Regions from separate parts of the Homo sapiens genome. Here region 2 is linked to region 1. A link means that fine-mapping ties the variant in region 1 to the expression of a gene that starts in the linked region. Tissue or cell type: putamen. Region 1 holds a variant in brackets; the other region holds the start of a gene. All regions are shown on one strand. Distances are from middle to middle.

Region 1 (5,556 bases):
TGTCGCCATTTCTTACCAGCCATGTGAGCTTAGCCTTCGGGTCCCGGGGTCTGCGCGCTGTGTCGCCATTTCTTACCAGCCATGTGAGCTTAGCCTTCGGGTCCCGGGGTCTGCGCGCTGTGTCGCCATTTCTTACCAGCCATGTGAGCTTAGCCTTCGGGTCCTGGGGTCTGCGCGCTGTGTCGCCATTTCTTACCAGCCATGTGAGCTTAGCCTTCGGGTCCCGGGGTCTGCGCGCTGTGTCGCCATTTCTTACCAGCCATGTGAGCTTAGCCTTCGGGTCCTGGGGTCTGCGCGCTGTGTCGCCATTTCTTACCAGCCATGTGAGCTTAGCCTTCGGGTCCTGGGGTCTGCGCGCTGTGTCGCCATTTCTTACCAGCCATGTGAGCTTAGCCTTCGGGTCCCGGGGTCTGCGCGCTGTGTCGCCATTTCTTACCAGCCATGTGAGCTTAGCCTTCGGGTCCTGGGGTCTGCGCGCTGTGTCGCCATTTCTTACCAGCCATGTGAGCTTAGCCTTCGGGTCCTGGGGTCTGCGCGCTGTGTCGCCATTTCTTACCAGCCATGTGAGCTTAGCCGAGTTATTTAACCTCTTGTTGCCCTAGTTTCTTTCTTCATCTTAAAATGAAAACACGTAGCATAAAGAGTTACGCAGTTTAGGTGGGTGGTGCGTGTGTAAATGGAGTCCCGCAGAGTGCTGGGCTCCCAGACAGCTGTTGAATGAATGAATGACTGCATTGCTGCGTGAGTGAGTGAGCGAGTGTGTGAGTGAGTGAGTGATCTGTGGGTCTGTTGTGGAGCCACATGGCCTGTTAGGGCTCTAGACAGGGGCCCTTATGAAAAAAGAAGGCCCTGCTTCAGGGGCATAGGAGGCGTCAGGCAGGCAGCAGGGCAAGAGCCAGCCCTGCCTCGGGTCAGCGTGGCCTGGAAGTTGGCCAGGTCTGCAGGAGAATGGGCAGGTGTGGCCAGGTGGTCCATGGGGGAGGAGGCTGGTACAGGCCAGAGCTGGTCAGGTCAATGCCCGACCATTTCCAGGACCTTTGCCTGTGCTGAGCATGGGTTATTTTTTTCTGGATACATCCATCCCCCATCCTTTCTGTGACAGTTCCCTGATTTCCCTTTGGGTAAAGCCCCTACCCCATTCCCAAGCTATGTATCTTGGGATGGGCTGACCCCACCACCAGGCTCTGCTGATACCCATGTGACCCAGTTATTCTCATAAGAGACAGATTCTAGGATTTTCCTGGAACTTCTGAACTAGAGAGGGTCTCTTTCCACTGGGGAGAGCGGGCAGGATGTGGTCTGGAGCTGCGGGGGGCCACAGTGTGAAGAGGGCTCCCCTGGGAATGAAGCCAACATGGAGGAAACAGAGCTGACAGATGGGGAAGGAGAGAGCCCTGGTGATGTTATTGGAGTGCCTGGATCCAGCCAGACCTGAATCTTCCTGGATTTTTCAGTCAAGAGGGGCAGTACGTTCTCTTTGTTATTTAAGCTAGCGTGACCCAGGTTCTGACCCTTGGAGATAAAGGTCCTGGCTGATACACCAGAGACCCTCCCGTATGACACAGAACCAGTGTCCCCGCAGACGCTCATTCCTGTGGAGGTTTGTATTTTTGAAGTCCTTGTCAGAGATCATGAAAAGGAAGGGTCGTAGATAGGAGAGGTCTCAGGAAATAGTGGTTGCAGTGAGTGACAGCCGTGTTCAGAGCCCAGGTAGTGTAACTTGCCTCTCCCCGTGTAACAGCTCAGGTTGTGTTGTGGCTGCGTCCCAGCAGTGATTCTTGGGAGAACAAGGATGTCAGAATCTGGAATGTGCGTTGCCTGCATTGAGCAGAGTCTCCTTCCAATTGTTCATCATTCCGGGTTTCAATGAATTTTTTTCAGAGTGTGCAGGTTTACATATGCTGTTCGGTTGGTGATGGAAACACTTACGGCCACTGATAAAGCAATAAATGAAAGGAAATGACAGGAAAGCACCATCCTCGAGCTTCCATGGACACAGAGATGAAGATTTCCATCTGTGGCTAGACAGGCGCAGAGCTTTGGAGGTGCTCCTGGCCCGTCGGTTCCCAGTGACGTGTCTTCAACTCCAGGCCGTGTAGATTGCTCAGAACTTGTGCACATCATAGAGGTTTCTCTTTCTTTTTCTTTTTTTTTTTTTTTTTTTTTTGAGACAGAGTTTCGTTCTTGTTGCCCAGGCTGGAGTGCAGTGGAGCAGTCTCAGCTCACTGCAACCTCCTCCTCCCAGGTTCAAGCGATTCTCGTGCTTCAGCCTCCCAAATAGCTAGGATTACGGGCGCGCACCACCACACCTAGCGCTCTCTCTCTCTCTCTCTCTCTGTCTCTCTCTCTCTCTCTGTCTCTCCCTCTGTCTCTCTCTCTCTCTCTCTCTCTCTATATATATATATATATATATGTGTATATATATATATATGTATATATATATATATATATTTTTAAATAGAGACAGAGTTTCATCATGTTGGTCAGGCTGGTCTTGAACTCCTGACCTCAGGTGATCTGCCTGCCTCAGCCTCCCAAAGTGCTGGGATTACAGGCATGAGCTACCACGCCTGGCTGGAGTTTTTTTACATTCAGTTCTGGACATAGATGGGAGGCTGGGCCAGAGAAATAGAGTATAGGGCAGGGGATGCCCAACTCATTCCCGAAATGATCTCTGTGTTAAAATTGTACCATAAAGCCACGCTTGGGGTCCATAGCATCAAGGTGGATCTTCTTATCAGAGACTGGGGGGAGACTTGAATGGGAAGGATGCCCTCGGGCAGAGCTCACTGGCAGTCCCCGTAGGCCACGTCTGGTCCTGGGCAGTGCTCTTGTATGGGTGCTTAGCGCTTTCTTGGATCACATCTTTTGGTGTTGGTCCTGTCATCAGACTGTGGGAGGATCACAGACAGCGCGTCTATCGTGCCCTCCACCACTGTCCCCGTTGTCCTCAGATACAAGCGCATTGCCTGCCCTTGGGTAC[A/G]TTCTTTCTCCAGTGACCCCCTTGCTTCATTACATGTGCTGACCACCGGCTCGTCACAATCTCGGGCAGGCACAGTTGTGGGCTGAGGGCAGCTGTGGATGGTTGACTGGGGTTAGCATTTGTGCAGCTTTTGAACAATCTCTTGGCTGAATGGGGAAGCGTGGCGAGTTATTCCCCGGTCCTAGGGTGTGGTAGATGACTTCTCCTGTTGCTGTGATGTCTGTGCGGACTGGGACTCACGTGGGCTAAATATGTATGTCTTCATTTGAGAGGACCAAAACACGATTCTAAGGTTGGTTGTTTTCCAAAGGCAGTAACTCGCCTGGTTAGTTTTTCTCTTTTTCCTCTCTCCTGCCCCCAAATTACATAAAGCAAAACATCCAGGTCGTTTCCAAATTTCATTTCATAAACCGAAAACACGTTTTAGGTCTCAAGGGGCAAAAGACACCTTCATCCAGTTAACTCGGAAAGTTTTTAATGTTTATATGGCACAAAGTTCTTTCTTTTTTTAGACAGACTGGAAGAATCCTTCCTTTGCTAAGACCTTATTCTTTTTCTGGTTTGTTTGAAATTTTTTTGTTGTTGTGGTAAAAAATACATAACATAAAGATTACCATGCTAGCCATTTGAAGGGTACAATTTGGTGGCATGAATTACATCCCCAATATGTTGTGCTACCATCACCACTACGTATTGCCAAAATTTTCCATAACTCCAAACAGAAACTGTGTAACCATTAATAAATAACTCCCTTTATACCCCTGACCCCAGCCACTGGTAACTTCTTAACTGCTTTGTCTCTGTGACTGTGCCTAGACTAGATATTTCATATACATTGAATCATAAAATAAGTAGCCATTTGTTTCTGACTTTCACTTAGCATAAGGACTTCAGGGTTCATCCATGTTGTAGCATCCATCAGTGCTTCATTCCTTTTCATGGCTGAATAATATTCCATTGCATGGTTAGACCACATTTTGTTTATCCATCCATCAATTGATGCACAGTTTACCTCATTCTTAAATGTTGGCTTTAAATAGTTTTTTTTTTTTTTTTTTTGAGATGGAGTCTTGCTCTGTCACCCAGGCTGGAGTGCAATGGCGCCATCTCGGCTCACTGCAAGCTCCGCCTGCTGGGTTCACACCATTCTCCTGCCTCGGCCTCCCGAGTAGCTGGGAATACAGGCGCCTGCCACCACGCCCGGCTAATTTTTTGTATTTTTAGAAGAGACGGGGTTTCAGCGTGTTAGCCAGGATGGTCTCCATCTCCTGACCTCGTGATCCACCTGCCTTGGCCTCCCAAAGTGCTGGGATTACAGGTGTGAGCCACCGCGCCCGGCCAGCTTTAAATAGTTTTAGCGAGTAAATGTAATAAAGTCATGTGCCCCATAACCACATTTCAGTCAACGATGTACCACATATATGATGGTGGTCCCGTAAGATTATAATACCATATTTATATGTTTAGGTATGTTTAGATATATAAATACTTTCACCACTGTGTTGCAATCATCTATGGTATTCAGGACAGTGACAAGCTGTGCTGGTTTTGTAGCCTGGGGGCAATAGGCTACACCACGTAGCCCAGTGTGTAGTAGGCTCTGCCACCTAGGTTTGTGTAAGTACATGCTATGAAGTTCACACAATGACAAAATCACCTAAGGACACATTTGTCAGAATACAACCCTGTTGTTTAGTGACACAGGACTGTGACTTCCTCTAAATTATTCCTATAAATTCTTTGTTTCCTAATACCGTCTGGACAACTGAATGGAATGAAATTAAACTAACATTGATGGATTGTTTGCTATAAACCAGGCTGTATGCTGGGGTCGTGCACAGAGTGTTATCTCATTGAATCCTCACCAGCATGGTAGGAAGTGGATCGCCTGACCTCATTTTACAGATGGAAACACTTAAGCTTCACTTAAGGAGAAGGGATTTGCTCAAGGTCACATAGCTAATATGTGGCTGGGCTGAAATTGGAACCCTGGTCCACCTCACTTCTGAACACATGTGCTCCCCTCCTGTCTGCTTTGTCTCATTGATCATGGATGGGGCAACCTGGTTCATGGCTTTGTCACATTGAGAGATGTTTCACAGGTGCTTTCTTCCCAAACACATCGACAGAGCCCTGAGCCCTGGTCCAAAATGGCCTAGCTTTTGTCCTTTGGCCTTAGTAGCTTCCGTATCAGTTCTTCAGTGATGAGGAGAACATGTAGGAGTCGTATGAGGTGTTGGTGCAGTTCCGAAGGGGTCTTGGAGGAACTGATAGATCTGTCTGCAGTACAGTTGGGGAACCAATGACTGGCTACCTCCACCGAGCCTCTGCTCTGGCAGCAAAGTCAAGGACTGTCCAATCTTACTAGTCACACACTGATTCCTTCCCAGTCTTCCCTCCTTCCTTACCAGCCATCCATCCATCCTTCGATGCATTCACCCGTCTGACCATCCAACATGCATCTGTCCAACCATTCAGATGCATCCATCCATCCATTTATCAGACCATCTATCCATCTAACCATCCTCCATCTATCCATCCATCCATCCATCCACCCATGCATCTGTCCATCA
Region 2 (5,225 bases), 820 kb before region 1:
GCACAGCCAGACCTGAAGACATTCAGGCTCCAGTAGAAACGAACGCACGTGGCATGTGCTCAACAACACATCCGGCGGCGTTGGCCCAGTGGCCCTTAGTTTTTGTCGTTGGGACCTAGACTGAACATGCAGAGGAGCAGAGAGCCACTGGGGACTTCTATGTCCCGTATTTTACCTGGAAGAGGAAAAGGGGGACCAGAGAAAGAGGCAAACACCAGTAAGGGGGGAGAGGCAAGATTTGAATCATGGAGGTTTGAAGAAGTAGCAAGATTTTTGTTGTTGTTCTTTGGTTGTTTTTTGTTTTTCTGTTTGTTTCTGAGTGGAGGACAAATGATCACGGGCTGGGATGTGTCTGCAAGTCTCCTCCACCTCCCTGAGGGTTTAACTGTGAAGTTAGGTGCATGTGAGCCTTGTTCATCCACCACCCTGGTGGGTGACAGTGGGGGCACTAAAGGAAGGGCCAGGCAAGGGTGCTGCTCCATCCCCAACTCATCCCTGGTGGCAGGGGCACGGGTGATGTGGGAAGAATCAGCTGCCTGGGGTTATTCAGTGTCCAGGAGACAAATTCTTTCCCCCAAAAATATCCCAAAGCAAGTATCCCAAAGTATACAAAATAATTTAGCTCTGTGAACCTGTTAGAAGATGCCATCAACTCATAAAGTCAGAGTTACTCCTTTTCAGGCCTCCTTTCATCCTTCCAATCACATCAGAACAACGACCTCTGTGCTAGTCCATCTTAAGGCTTTTGTAACACTTACTAATCAGCTTCAGCCTTCGGTATCTTTAGCAGGTCAAAGTATCTGGAATTTGATAACATTTCTCTTCTTGTTGTATTTATTTTTAGCAATTATCTTTGATTTATGGAAACATGGTGAGATGCTGGCTTTTCCATTTATAGTAGTGATTTAAAGTATCCTTTAAAAAATTGAAAAAAGTTTTAGGCGCTGTGTAAAGAAATACCCAACCATAGACACGGCAGGAAGGTGCAGAACATGCCCCTTGAAGTAGGGGCGGCTGCTGGTTGGGTTTCACTCGTGTTTCGAAGAGGATGGAAGCGCTGACAACCACAGGAGGAATGCGTCATGGGTTCCAGGACAGCAACTGGCTGGACCCAACTCTGGGCTGCCTAGCTCCCCCAGCCTTCACAATTCAACTCATGCCACCTCTTACAGGAAGTCCTCCTGGATGCCCAGCTCTGGAGTCATCTCTGTGGTATACTAGGATTCCAGTTCCAACTTTCTCTGGAACCAGTTGGGTCATCACAGGTCACGAGAGCAGATGCCTACAGAGAGTGAGGAGAGGCGGGACCTGCCACAAACTGCAAGGTAAGTGCCCATTTAATGGTTGCTAAGCAGGACTGTGGGGCTAGCGTGGCCACATCTTCCAATATCTCAAGAAAAGTTACCAATCTAAATTTCCATGTGACATCTCACCATGCCTGGGAGCTGGATCCAGCCTCGGGCACCCTTAGGTGACACAGAAAGAGTACAGCTTGCAGGTGAAGATGGCTGTCCAGCTGCGATGCTCTCACACCCAGGACCCACAATCGAAAGAACCAAGGACGTGAGATCACAGTTAGAGCCTGCTGTGTAAGTCGTGTTTCCCCCAACGACTGGGACCTCCTGGCCAGCAGGGAGAGGCCTGAGTCATCTCCGGGTCCTCTGCCCCTGGCCAAAGCAAAGACCAAAGCCCTGGCCACACAGACCTGGGGCAGGGCAAATGAGAAAATCAAAGGGGTGGGTGTTCACCCTCTGGGGAAGTGAGGCAGAAATTGGGGGTCCCAGGGCAGAGATGATCAACAGCCTGAGAGGGGGCTCTCAGGCAGGCCCTGGAGAGAGGCCGCTGAGCTCAGACAGCATGGGAGGATCAGGGCCTTGCTGGAGAGGAGGGACTGGGGAGGGGTTCCGGTTGGCAACGGGCTCTAACAGCAAACTGGCCCCAGAATGGGCCCAGGTGTCCTTGGATGCTTGGGTGGAAAAGGTAGGCAGAGCTTGGAGAGGCCATTTCAGGTTGGGGGCCGGGAGTGCAATGGCGGGAGGACAGAATGCATACGTGGGGTTGAGGACAGGTGAGGGCAGGAGCCTGACTGTGCTCATGGGCAGAGAGCCCAGGTCTGGCAGGAAGAGGCTGTGCTGAGGCTGCAGCGGAGGGATGGGAAGGCAGATGGGGGACAGGGGACAGGGACTTCAGAGGAAGAGGAACTGGGGACTGAAGGAGCCTTGCCTCTCTCAGTAAGGGCAAAAGTTGATCTTTGGGGTCGCGCCCTGGGTGTACCCTCCTAACAGCATCTTCTGGCCTTTGCGGCCTCTATTTGGGCATTCGGCCTGGCTCAGACCTTGGACCCAGTAGTCAGTCCCCCCTCCCCTTTCATTCCCTCACCCTGTCCTGCCCCAGAGCACAGAGACAGGGGGATGCACCCCTTGAATTCCAGGGCTGATGGGTGGGACCCGGCACCCCAAGGGCTCTCTAGGTGGGGACGTTCGGCCGGCGCCGCTCCTCGGAGGTTGTGCCCCTGGGGTGGCTGGCGGCGGGGCTCCCCCGGCCCGGCCCGCGGCGCTTCTCTGCCGCCGCCTCGGGGTGTCTCTGCTTCGCTGCGAGCCCGGCACCGCGGCGACGGCGGCGCGAAGAGGGAAGCGGGCGGCGGCGGCGGCCGCGCCAAGATGCGCCGGGTCACCGCAGGCTGAGGCGCCCGCCGTCCCCGCCCTCCCCCTCGCTCGCCTCCCTCCCTCCCGCCTGCCTCCCTCGCTCGCTCGCTCCTTCCCTCTCCCCGCCTTCCCTCCGCGCTCCCCCGCCCGCCCCTCCGCGCCTCGCCTCCTCCGCCCCGCGCCCTGCGGTGCTGCAGCTGCGGGCGGCTCCAGCTGCCCCCAGATGTGGGCTGGGCGGCTCGCGGGGAACTTTCGCGCCGGCTGCGAGTGCGGGGCCCCGGCTGCAGTCCGGCTGCCATGGATCCGCCGGCGGGAGCCGCTCGCCGCCTGCTCTGCCCCGCGCTGCTGCTGCTGCTGCTGCTGCTGCCGCCGCCGCTCCTGCCGCCGCCGCCGCCGCCCGCGAACGCCAGGCTCGCCGCCGCCGCCGACCCCCCAGGTAGGTGCGGCCCGGCCCCTACTCCCCGGGACCCCCGCCGGCCTGGCCCTGTCCCGCGTGCCCCGCCGCCCCCTCCCCAGGCGTCGTCCAGCCTGACTTGGGCAAACTCCGCGCGCCCCGCCCGGGGCCAAGTTGGCCAACTTCGGGGCCGGGTTGGTCGCGCAGGGGGCGCCCCGCACCGCCCCCGAGCGCCTTGGGCCGGGGGAGCCTCGGAGCACTGGCGGCTCCTGAGTCGCGGAGGGTGGGGACGGAGGGCCGGGAAAAGCCCCGCGGCCAAGAGCGCAGAGTCAGCCCCAGCGGGTCCGAGGGGGGAGCCAGGGCGAGGCGGCGCCGGGGCTCGCGTCCGGGGACGCTCCGGAGGAGCCGGCTGCCGAGCGCGTAGCCTTGGGCCCTAAGGATTGGTTGGGGCGCCCCGCAGGGAATCCCCGGAGATCGGAGGGACCCTGTTCCACCCCTCCCAGTCCTCGGGCGCTCGGGGAGACGGGGCCGGCAGCGGGCTGAGCGGGAGCTGGACAGGCAGGACAGGCCGCTCGTGCTCGGGGAAGCCGAGACTCCGCCGCTCCGGAGGCTGGCGGTGAGGGCACTCGGGCGGCAGGGGCCCGCCGAGGGGTCGTGGCACACGGGTAAGGGGGCCAACCCGGAATGGCTTCCGAGCAGCTCCACGTCCTGCCAAGGACGGTAGGTGCAAGGGTCGGGGGACTCTCTGACGGGGTCGTCCCTTCGGGCACGGGGAGGTTCCCACCGAGCCCCAACCCTGAACGGGGCAGGGGGCAGAGCTCTTGGCAGGCAAGGTCTCCGGAGGAGGGAACGGCTGGGGAGTGGCGGAGCCCCGGAGTGGTGGCCCTGTTAACGCCCCTTCCCGGTTGCAGGAAAGCCGGGGAGGTGCAGGCTGGCTTCTGGGGTCGCCTGGCGGAATGCCCCTTCCCTTCGCAGTGGGGCGGGGTCTGGGGGGGCGTGGCTTGCCGGCGGGTCTCTGAGGCACTGGGGCTCCGTGGTCTCCGCCGATCTAACGCCCCTTCCCGTTGCAGGCGGGCCCCTGGGGCACGGAGCGGAGCGCATCCTGGCGGTGCCCGTGCGCACTGACGCCCAGGGCCGCTTGGTGTCCCACGTGGTGTCGGCAGCTACGTCCAGAGCAGGGGTACGAGCCCGCAGGGCCGCCCCGGTCCGGACCCCGAGCTTCCCCGGAGGCAACGAGGAGGAGCCTGGCAGTCACCTCTTCTACAATGTCACGGTCTTTGGCCGAGACCTGCACCTGCGGCTGCGGCCCAACGCCCGCCTCGTGGCGCCCGGGGCCACTATGGAGTGGCAGGGCGAGAAGGGCACCACCCGCGTGGAGCCCCTGCTCGGGAGCTGTCTCTACGTCGGAGACGTGGCCGGCCTAGCCGAAGCCTCCTCTGTGGCGCTCAGCAACTGCGATGGGCTGGTGAGTACGCACTTCTCTAGCTCCTTTCTCTCCGCTGCTCTCGCCTGGGTTTTGGAAAAGGGTTACCTGGGAGTCCCTTGGGAGGGCAAGGCCTGCGCTGAGGACTTTCCGCGCCCTTCCCGTGCTTTAGTGAGCCTCGTGCTCCAACTGAAGGGCTTGGCTGGAAAGCAGGTTGTTTTGACTGGTCTGAGCAGGGGGCCATTTATGCATGGGGAGCGCCCGGGTCTCCAAAAGGCTCAGCAGGCAGGAGCGTGCGCCTCTCTCTTTTGCCTGCCTGAACAGGTCTCTGGCTTGCATCCGGGGGTGGGTCCGTGTATGTGTGTGTACCTTTGTGAGTGTGTGCACATGTGTTGTGGAACGTTGGTGTGTACCTGCATCTGGGTGCCCGTGCACCTGTGTGAACATGTGCGTGTGCCAGTGTCTCTTGTGCACGTATGTGTCTGGGTTTCTGCACATCAGTGTGTTGAGCATCTGTTGAGTTTGTGTCCGTCCTTGTGCATACTGGCGTGATATGTGTGTGGTGGACTTATGGGCTGGCAGTCAGTCTTCCTGTTTCCTTGCGTGCGGGTAATACCAGCCCAGGGAGCTGGCAGTGATGCTGAAATGCCCAGTTAGCCCTCTGCCCCTTGGCTGACCGGGAATCATTGGTTTTTCTGCTGTGGTTTCCTGTTGAACTCCAGCTGGTTCTTTGAAAAGTTGGTTTTCTCTATTTTGAGCTGAG

What was found. PIP is the estimated chance that this variant, and not a neighbour inherited with it, causes the effect.
Region 2: ADAMTS2 starts here. The variant in region 1 is fine-mapped to the expression of ADAMTS2 in putamen (GTEx, PIP above 0.99).

The regions. Positions count from the first base shown.
Region 1 is chr5:178,520,039-178,525,594 of GRCh38, reverse strand. The region is part of intron 2 of COL23A1 (collagen type XXIII alpha 1 chain); the gene reads left to right. Among named protein-coding and RNA genes, the nearest start is that of COL23A1, 68 kb to the left of the region's middle. RefSeq lists an enhancer at 1-792. The variant A/G (reference allele first, on the strand shown) is at 2,984.
Region 2 is chr5:179,343,046-179,348,270 of GRCh38, reverse strand. It overlaps ADAMTS2 (ADAM metallopeptidase with thrombospondin type 1 motif 2), which reads left to right and starts at 2,810. Exons shown (of 22, transcript NM_014244.5): 1 at 2,810-3,081; 2 at 4,110-4,504. The coding sequence starts at 2,943. LOC105377759 (a long non-coding RNA gene) reads left to right here. Exons shown (of 3, transcript XR_941311.3): 2 at 1,173-1,325; 3 at 1,492-1,910.